Linked DNA regions of Homo sapiens. The protein of the gene in region 2 purifies or fractionates together with the protein of the main gene of each other region. This does not show direct contact. Each region holds a gene or a part of one and is shown on either strand. Other genes may lie near its edges.

The links.
Region 1: the proteins of MYPOP (region 2) and TBC1D23 purify together in Homo sapiens (affinity purification with mass spectrometry; one large-scale study listed by BioGRID and IntAct). This does not show direct contact.
Region 3: the proteins of MYPOP (region 2) and BORCS5 purify together in Homo sapiens (affinity purification with mass spectrometry; one large-scale study listed by BioGRID and IntAct). This does not show direct contact.

The regions. Positions count from the first base shown.
Region 1 is NC_000003.12:100,319,992-100,322,864, reverse strand, and holds part of TBC1D23 (TBC1 domain family member 23), read right to left. Parts: intron 2,089-2,873; coding exon 1,894-2,088; intron 1-1,893. UniProt on the Homo sapiens protein: Putative Rab GTPase-activating protein which plays a role in vesicular trafficking. Involved in endosome-to-Golgi trafficking.
Region 2 is NC_000019.10:45,889,523-45,892,613, forward strand, and holds the end of MYPOP (myb-related transcription factor, partner of profilin), read right to left. Parts: intron 2,758-3,091; coding exon of another isoform or gene 2,648-2,757; intron 1,802-2,647; coding exon 1,101-1,801; 3' UTR 501-1,100; downstream 1-500. UniProt on the Homo sapiens protein: Transcriptional repressor; DNA-binding protein that specifically recognizes the core sequence 5'-YAAC[GT]G-3'. Dimerization with PFN1 reduces its DNA-binding capacity.
Region 3 is NC_000012.12:12,363,578-12,367,077, reverse strand, and holds part of BORCS5 (BLOC-1-related complex subunit 5), read right to left. Parts: intron 1-3,500.

The DNA.
Region 1 (2,873 bases), on a different chromosome or scaffold from region 2:
CATAAATATCAATGAAGAAAGGGAGAGAGAGAATCTAGTTACTTTATCTTCCACTATTAAGACTATCTTCCAAAACTCTGAATTAAAAAAAAAAAGATGTTGATCCATATATAATAAACTTCAATTTATTTAGCAAAATTTGTGGGAAAGCCTTTAAAACACAATTCCCAACTTTTACTATACATGAGAGAGTCATAATTCAAATCTCCTTTGGTTAGGATTAATTTATAAGTAGATATTAAAATGTGTATACCTCTCACCCATTGAATCTACTTGCAGGAATTTATCCTGAGAAGACTAATTGGACAACTATGTAAACATACATGTTTTTAAAGGCCCACTAGAAGATTAATAGTGAAACACATGAAAACAATGTAAATGCCAATCAACATGAGGCTTGTTAAATCAATCTCCTGAGAAATCCTTATAACAGAATATCTACCATTAAAAAGCTAAGAATTTATATTTATTGGGCCGGGCACGGTGGCTCACTCCTGTAATCTCAGCACTTTGGGAGGCCAAGGTGGGTGGATCACGAGGTCAGGAGATGGAGACCATCCTGGCTAACACGGTGAAACCCCATCTCTACTAAAAATAAAAAAATTAGCTGGGCATGGTGGCGGGCGCCTCTAGTCCCAGCTACTCGGTAGGCTGAGGCAGGGAGAATGGTGTGAACCTGGGAGGCGGAGCTTACAGTGAGCCGTGATTGCAACACTGCACTCTAGCCTGAGTGACAGAGACTCCGTCTCAAAAAAATTAATTAATTAATTTTAAAAAATTTATATTTATTAAAATGTAAGTATATTCACACTATACTATTTTCTTAAAAAATCAGAACACAAAAACAAGCCTATATCACATTTATCTAGTTTTTAGTAGAGAAATAACATATGCATTAAAAAAAATCTGAGAAGATACACATCAATGTGTTAACAGAGAATTAGAATGACATATTCTTTATATTATTAATTGAAAATATCACTATGTAAATATTTATTCTTACATAAAGCAATGAAGTGATTTTTTTTTTTTTTACAAATCAGGTATTATTTTCTTTTAACAAATTACATAAAACAGTATAGATTCATGATGTTTGCTACCTAATTGTCAGTACAAGATGAAAGAAGCTGAATAATTTCCTCTTCCAACTGAAGTTGATTATTTAAAAGTGCTGCGATATAACCTTAAGCTTACTATTTATCCAAGCACTCCTGTAAATAATAAGTGTAATCCTAAATCCCAGTGGGGGAACAACTTGAACTGATGCAAGGTATAATAAACCACAAATCAGGAGTCAGGAAGGCTATATTTGGTTCTGTCACAAACTAAGTGTTAGGATCTGGGAAGTCATTCCACCCCTCTGGGCTTCATATTTTTATCTATAATTAAAAAATGGTTTAGTATCAATATCAGTGTGGTCCACAGCTCTTGGGCCAGTCTGTGAACTGTTAGTGACCCACAATGAGACAAAGGGGGGCTTGTACCAGGCTGTAAATTACCTATATCACCCAGCACACTGCTTAGTTCACTGACAGTTTGTCAAAACAAGAATTTTTCGATGAAGGAAAATAAAAATATCAACATATTCTAAAACAAGTTTCTTATTTCTCTGCAAGCCAGCAATTAGTGCAGCACTGGTACAGATTAACAATAAGGATCCTTGGGTCAGAAACTTTATGAAATTAGCTATGGCACTTACTCAAATCATGTGCTAATGGCTAAACCACACATGACTAAGGACTCCGGAGAAAGAGATAAGAAACACTAAAAGTGGTTCAGCTATCCTATTCCACCATCCATTCCCCAAAATAAAGAAACAAACTCTTTATAGTGAACTACAGTAATTCAGATAATATCTGAATTCAGATAATATTATCTTAAGGAAAATCTTACCTTTCGATTGCCAAGATTTCTATTCCTGAAGCACTGCTATTTCCATACTTGAAGGTAATGAGTTCAGGATGTTTTTTTTTGGATGTAATTTTAACTACAGAATTCAGCGCTTGTCGAGACTGTATATAAGCCAATCCTTTCCGTGAAACAATCTCCCTTAAACAGTACATATGTGTTGCAGTAACCAACAGATGACTTGAGACAAAAAAAGCATTAAAAGAAAAAGAATTTTTAAGTAAATTTAATTCAAAACAGGTGTTGTTTCAACCATCTCAATTATTAGAAATGTTCAACTCTAAATAAAATTGAGTTAAAAGATATAAACAGAGGTTAATCTATAAACAAGTAAGCTACACATTAACACCTTTTAATTGTATGCAAAATTAATATTTTATTAACAGATAATCCTGCAATGATTGAAAATATAATAAATATAATAAAAAGTTCCATACAACATAGAAATCACTACAATAATATATTTTTTATTGAAATGGAGTATATTACGTTTCAGATTTTTTAACGCTATTACCTATATTCATAAACTATTCTCATTCAATGCACCATATCCTATATCTAATATCCAAGATCACTAGGCAATTGTTGGGTTTCCCTACATATTTTGTAAACATTCTGTAACTGGATCCTGAAGGCAAAATGAGCATAGTATTATTAACACTCACCCAACCCCTGTATCTCAGCTTCTTTTTAATATAATACTCTCACATTTTTTATGTACAGTAATACAATACGACAGTTATCAGACAAGTGCAGAATGTGGAACATTCTGTAGGATGATTGACCTGGACTCAAAGGATTCATTCATCATGAAGAGAAAAGGGAAGCGAGGGGGTGGGGGGATGAGTTCTGCTGTACACAGGGTGAGACTAAAGACACATAACAGACAATGCAATGTGTAAACCATGAACTGGATCATGGATCACCAAAGAAAAAACACACTACAAAAGATACTTTGGGGACAC
Region 2 (3,091 bases):
TAGAAAACCCCATCTCTAGAAAAATAAAACAATTAGCTGAGCATGGTGGCACATGCCTGTGGTCCCAGCTACTTGGGAGGCTGAGGCAGAAGGATTGCTTCAGCCTGGGAGATCGAGGCTACAGTGAGTTGTGATCATGCCACTGCACTCCAGCTGGGGCAACAGAACGAGATCCTATCTCAAAAAAACGGAAAGAAAAGAAAAGAAAGGAAAAGAAAAAGAAAAAGAACCACAGGACACTGAAAGAGACTCTAAGAGGCAAACCCACGTTAGCCTTGGGGAAGGAATCTAGGACTTTCTCCTGGAGTTGACATTTAGACTGGTATCTAAAGGAAGAGTAGGAATAAGATTTCATGTAAACACAAGACTTGATGGCTTTAAGAATTAAAAAAAAAAAAAAGCTGGAAAACCACCAGCCTCCCAATTGCCTGCCTGTGGAGGGGGCGGGGCAGGTGTAGGTGCTGGTCCCCCAGGCCTGTCTCAGACAGAGCCTCAAGTAATTGTATTAAAAATAAGTTTATTGATATCTTGTCACCACTGGGAGAAAGGAGGGGGTTGAGCTCTGGAAGTCAGAGACAGCAATGGTAGGCAGAGAACCCAACCTGTACCTCTCCCATCAGAACTCGGCGCCTCCTCTCCCTGGGGTATACACGGCTATATCCTCTTTGTCATCCGTATTTTGATTTGTCTTACAACTCCCACCCGCTCCAAAGTCTGGGTTGGGGAGGTGGGGAGTCCCCCACGGGTCAATTCTCTTCAAGTCAAGAACAGGAACTGTTAGGGAAGGGGAGATGTGCAGACCCGAGAGGTTCCCTCCCCACCCCACATAGGGCAATAATAAATAACATGAAATTGATGGCTTAGAAGTCAGGGTTAAGGGAGGCAGCCAGGCAGACAGCACTGTACCAGAGAAAGGGGTTGGGGGGGCCCATTACTGAGGCCCCCCCCAGAGAATCAGGCACTAACTAGCACAGGGAGTGGGTGCTCACATCCCTGGAGCAGGGAGCTAGGGTGCAGCTGGGATGGGCAGAGAGCATCGCCCCCCTCGACTGCGCCAAGCTGGGGAGAGGGGTTGCAGGCAGGATCATAGATAGTAGATTTCACGGAGATTTCCATCGGCCGCGCCTTTTCCGTGTAGGGAAACCTTTTCTCCGCTTGTGTGGGGGGGAGTCGTGCGGAGGGAGCGGGGCTGGGGGGGGCCGGGGTGCCCCCTCCTCGCTCCTTGGGGCAATGATCACTCCCCTGGCTGCCACCACTGCCCCGTCCACCACAGCAGCCACCACGGACACGGGCTCTGGGGTGATCTCCACCTTGGGGGCCGGTGGGGGCAGGACAGGCCTGGGAGGTGGCGGTGGGGGTGGGGGTGGGGGCAGAGGTGGAGGCAGGGAGTCAACTGGGGTTCCTGGCAGAAGGGGCAGCAGAGCGCTGAGGGCCTCGCTCAGTTTGGCCAGTCCCTGTCGAAGGGTGCCGGCCAGCTCCCGGATGGCGTTGGCAGTCTCCTGCTGGGCCCGCAGGAAGTCCAGGGAGGGGTCTGAGGCCGAGAGCGTGGGTGGAGGCCGAGGAGGGGGTGGGGGGCTAGGGGGTGAGGGTGCCACTTGGGCCAGTGGCGGTGGGGGTGGCAGTGGAGGGGCTGGGGGTGGTGGAGACAAGGCCAGGCGAGGCAGCTGGACCGGCTGCAGGGCCGAAGGGGGTGGTGACTCACGCTCCTTGGGCCGTGGGCAGCCCCCTTCCTGGGGAGTGCAGGAGGGCCGGGCCCATGGCTCCGGGCTGCTGGAGCCCGCCTTGCTGTGGGCTGATGTATCTGTAGAGAGAGAAATACAGGTAAGGGGTGAGCGACCCTCGATGCTGCCTTGATTTCCCCTTTCCCACTCCTTCCCTCACCTCCCCCCTACCCGAACCCAGAACTATCCTTCTCACCCCCGCCCCCCAGCCCCAAGACAGTCTTGGTCTGTCACCCAGGCTGTAGTGCAGTGGTGCAATCTTGGCTCACTGCACCTTCCACCTCCTGGGTTCAAGCGATTATCCTGCCTCAGCCTCCCGAGTAGCTGGGATTTCAGGTGACCGCCACCACACCCGGCTACTTTTTCTATTTTTAATAAGAGACAGGGTTTCACCATGTTGGCCAGGCTGGTCTCGGACTCCTGACCTCAGGCGATCCGCCCGCCTTGGCCTCCCAAAGTGCTGGGATTCCAGGTGTGAGCCACCGCGCCTGGCCCCAGAATGATCCTTTTAAAACCTAAGTCAGATCATGCCTTGGAAGAGAAGCTCCATGGCAGGCCAGTCTTTGTACCCGGAGGAGAAAAAGTCCTGCCAGCTTTAGTGGAAACAGGTCCTGGAAGTCCCTTGCTAGGCCAGGCAGCTCCCATCTCACTCACAGTAAGAGCCAACAGTTTTTTTATTTTTTTAATTTTTTTTGAGACAAAGTCTCACTTTGTAGCCTAGGCTGGAGTGCAGTGGCGTGATCTCGGCTCACTGCAACCTCTGTCTTCCGGCTTCAAACGATTATCCTGCCTCAGCCTCCTAAGTAGCTGGGATTACAGGCAGGCGCCACCCCGCCTGGCTAAATTTTTGTATTTTTAGTAGAGATGGGGTTTTGCCATGTTGGCCAGGTTGGTCTCAAACTCCTGACCTCAAGCAATCCACCCACCTCGGCCTCCCAAAGTTCTGGGATTACAGGTGTGAGCCACTGCGCTCGGACAAGGGCCAACATTTGACGAGGTTCTGAACTATATGGATACTGCACCACACTGCTGGATCCTGAGGAAGTGAGAGAGAGGTCTGGGAGAGAGCTGGGGTGTCTGGGCACTGGTGGACACTTCCCTGAGACTCTCTCCAACCAGGACAGCAGGATTTTCCAGTTCAGCCCCCAGCCTGGTAGGTTTCCTCAGTCTGTACTCACCTGGGGTCTCATTCATGCTCATGGGCTTGAACAGTTTGCATACAGGGGCTCCCAGCTTCCTGGGCTCAGCCTGAACCTCTCGCCTGGGCTCCAGACTCCTGTCTCCAGCTGTGTACTCTCAATTGTCGAAAAACGCCCCAAACTCACTTGCTCGGAGCTGGGCTTCTGATCCTCCCCCACCCTGCTCCTTCC
Region 3 (3,500 bases), on a different chromosome or scaffold from region 2:
AGGCTCCTTTTAATTATCAAAATCTACTTCACATGCATCATGTTCTTAACAACCAAACACCAAACTCCCAACAAAGCTGCTTAGTATCACTTCAGTATCTACACTGTATATGTTTGATCATCCTTGTTATTAACAAAAACAGCCCCTTCCATAGGCAGCAATACAATCTCTTACGTTGTATCCAAGGTCAGTAACAAAAATGACAGATCGGTTGGAAAGAATGTCACATGCATGCATGTGTGTAAATATGCACATATTCATCTACTAAGAGTGAATAATTATTTTTGTAACTTTATATATAAAACACCAACCATATTACTTTTCTCTTGCAAATATTTCATTTCTTTAGAATGACATACAATAGAGTGGGATTCATTAAAAAATATGAGTGGTTGAATTTCAAGTAAGAAATCTATACAGGGTTTGTTAACTTCTTGGAATCTTGCTAACTTACATCAAATCTACTATTTTGCCTTTGTGTTCTGTCACAGCCATTTGTAGCTACTTTCTAATTTTCTAATCTTTCATTTCCTATAAAATGCTTTACATGTCAAAATAAATTACTAATTCAGACATTGCTATGAAAAACAGAAATCCCTTTGATAAAAAAAGGAACAGATATTTGGATTATGGAGCATAAATTATACTCTGGTATATTTATGCAAAAGGGTTAAGGCCAAAGAAAGAATCTGCTTGCTTATTAAAAATGCAAACATTACCTCAGTCATACAAATAGCCCCAAACTCGCCCAGCCACTGCCTCTGCAGATCACCCACCAGCATTAGCATTACATCATATGACATTATGAAACAATAGTGAACTCTGTGTAATACTTCAATATATTGTTTTGAAAGAATAAACTGTCATTAAGTTGAATAAAAGCTTTCTGAAATCAAACCTGGGGGGTACAGGCTTCACTGTGTGGCCTTTTTACTATTTTGAGGAATGGCCTCATCCTGAAAGCAGGAAAGGGGGAAAAAAGAGTCAGAGTATAAAGGCGACAGTGATGCCTGGCCCCTGCAGCAGCCCAGCAGGCAGAGGGTAGGGCTTTTAATTATCAGGCAGAACAACGTCAAAGCAGGAGGCTCTGCAACAAATGCTGCACCTCAAAACCCAAACAACCTCATACCCACCACGCTAGTTCCTGTATATCCTAGTGATTTCTATAATGGGCTTTGCTAGAATTGGAAACTAAGTCTTATTCTATGTCCTGATGCAATCTTAAAATGTGCTATCACTTACAGCCATGTGACTTTAGGCAATTAATTTAAGCTCTCTAGGCCTCAATATTTTAATCTATAAAAACAGAAAGAACAATAGCTATTATGTAGAAGCATGGGGGATAAGATACTATTATCATAATTAAACTTATCATTTCCACCCCCTTTGCCTATCTTTCCTAATCACGGCCCAAGATGTTTCGTCTTCACAAGTGAAACATGAGCATCACCTTCAATGCTCACTGGCTTTTTGTTTGCTATAGTCTGGCCACAGCCACATGTTGTCATTTCTAGATTCACGCCACTCTCATCAAGTGGGGGTTGGGGTGGGGGGGATGAATTATACAAACTATTTTCTATAGTATTTTTTGAAACTCGGGCCGGGCATGGTGGCTCATGCCTGTAGTCTCAGCACTTTGGGAGGCTAAGGTGGGAGGAGCACTGGAGTCCAGGAGCTCAAGACCAACATGGGCAACATAGTGAAACCCTGTCTCTACAAAAAAAAAAAAAAATGTATTTTAATTAGCCGGGTGTGGTGGTGCACACTGTAGTCCCAGCTACTCTGGAAGCTGAGATGGGTGGATCGCTTGAGCCCAGGAGGTGGAGGCTGGAGTGAGCCATGATCTCATCTCTACCTTCCTTAACCAAATCCCCGATAACCTCTTCCTATAATCTGCTCCTTACTAGCCTTCCTCCTTCCTCACCTATTCTCAATGTTCTTAATAACCAAGGCTCAAAAAGGTGGAAAAACAAAGCCAGACAACATAATAGTTGGTGGCAAAGTCCCAGTTAAAACTCATTTATCAATGCAACCAGGTCCAGTTGCATTGCATTAACTGCATCACATTAATTATTCACTTTCAGGGCACTCAGTGATGATTTATTTATTTTGAGACAGAGTCTTGCTCTGTTGCCCAGATTGGAGTGCAGTGATGCAATCTTGGCTCACTGCAACCTCCACCTCTAGGGCTCAAGTGATACTCCCACCTCAGCCTCCTGAGTAGCTGGAACTACAGGTGCCCACCACCATGCCCGGCTAAGTTTTGTATCTTTTGTAGAGACAGGGTTTTGCCATGTTGGCCAGGCTAGTCTCAAACTCCTGTGCTCAGGTGATCCAACCGCCTTGGCCTTCCAAAGTGCTAGGATTACAGGCGTGAGCCACCATGGCCAGCCCTCAGTGATGACTTCAAATCTGAGGTTAGCTTCCCTTAACACCAAGTCTTCTAGATATTTCCCCTACTAGTGATTAATCATAAAACGAATTACAGCTGACCCTTGAACAACAACATGGGTCTGAACCACGTGGGTCCACTTATACGTAGATTTTCTTCTGCCTCTGCCACCCCTAAGACAGCAAAACTAACCCCTCCTTTTCCTCCTTCTCGGCCTACTCAACGTGAAGACAATGATGAAGATCTTTCTGATGATCTACTTCCACTTAATGAATAGTTAATATACTTTCTCTTCCTTATATTTTTCTTTGAGACCAAGTCTCACTCTGTCACCCAGGCTGGAGTGCAGTGGCATGATCTTGGCTCACTGCAACCTCTGCCTCCCGGGTTCAAGCGATTCTTGTGCCTCAGCCTCCCAAGTAGCTGGGACTACAGCTGCACGCCACCACACCCAACTAATTTTTGTATTTTTAGTAGAGATGGGGTGTCACCATGGTGGCCAGGCTGATCTCGAATTCCTGACCTGAAGTGATCCATCCTCCTCGGCCTCCCAAAGTACTAGGATTACAGGCATGAGCCACTGTGCCTGGCCTTCCTTATAATTTTCTTAATACATTTTCTTTTCTCTAGTTTACTTTATTGTAATAATATAGTATATAATAACATATAACACAAAAGATGTGTTAATCAACTGTTTATGCTATCAGTAAGGCCTCTAGTAAACAGAAGGCTATTAGTAGTTAAGTTTTGGCTAAGTTGAAAGTTATATGCAGATATTTTTTTTTTTTCTGAGATGGAGTTTCACTGTTGTTGCCCAAGCTGGAATGAAGTGGTAGTCTCAGCTCACTGCAACCTCCATCTCCTGGTTCTAGCAATTCTCCTGCCTCAGCCTCCTGAGTAGCTGGGTTTACAGGTGCACACCACCACACCCAGCTAATTTTTTTTTTTTGAGATGGAGTCTTGCTCTGTCACCCAGGCTGGAGTGCAGTGGCACAATCTTGGCTCAATGCAAGCTCTGCCTCCCAGGTTCATGCCATTCTCCTACCTCACCCTCCCAAGTAGCTGGGACTACAGGCACCCGCCACCACACCCGGCTAATTTTTTTTGT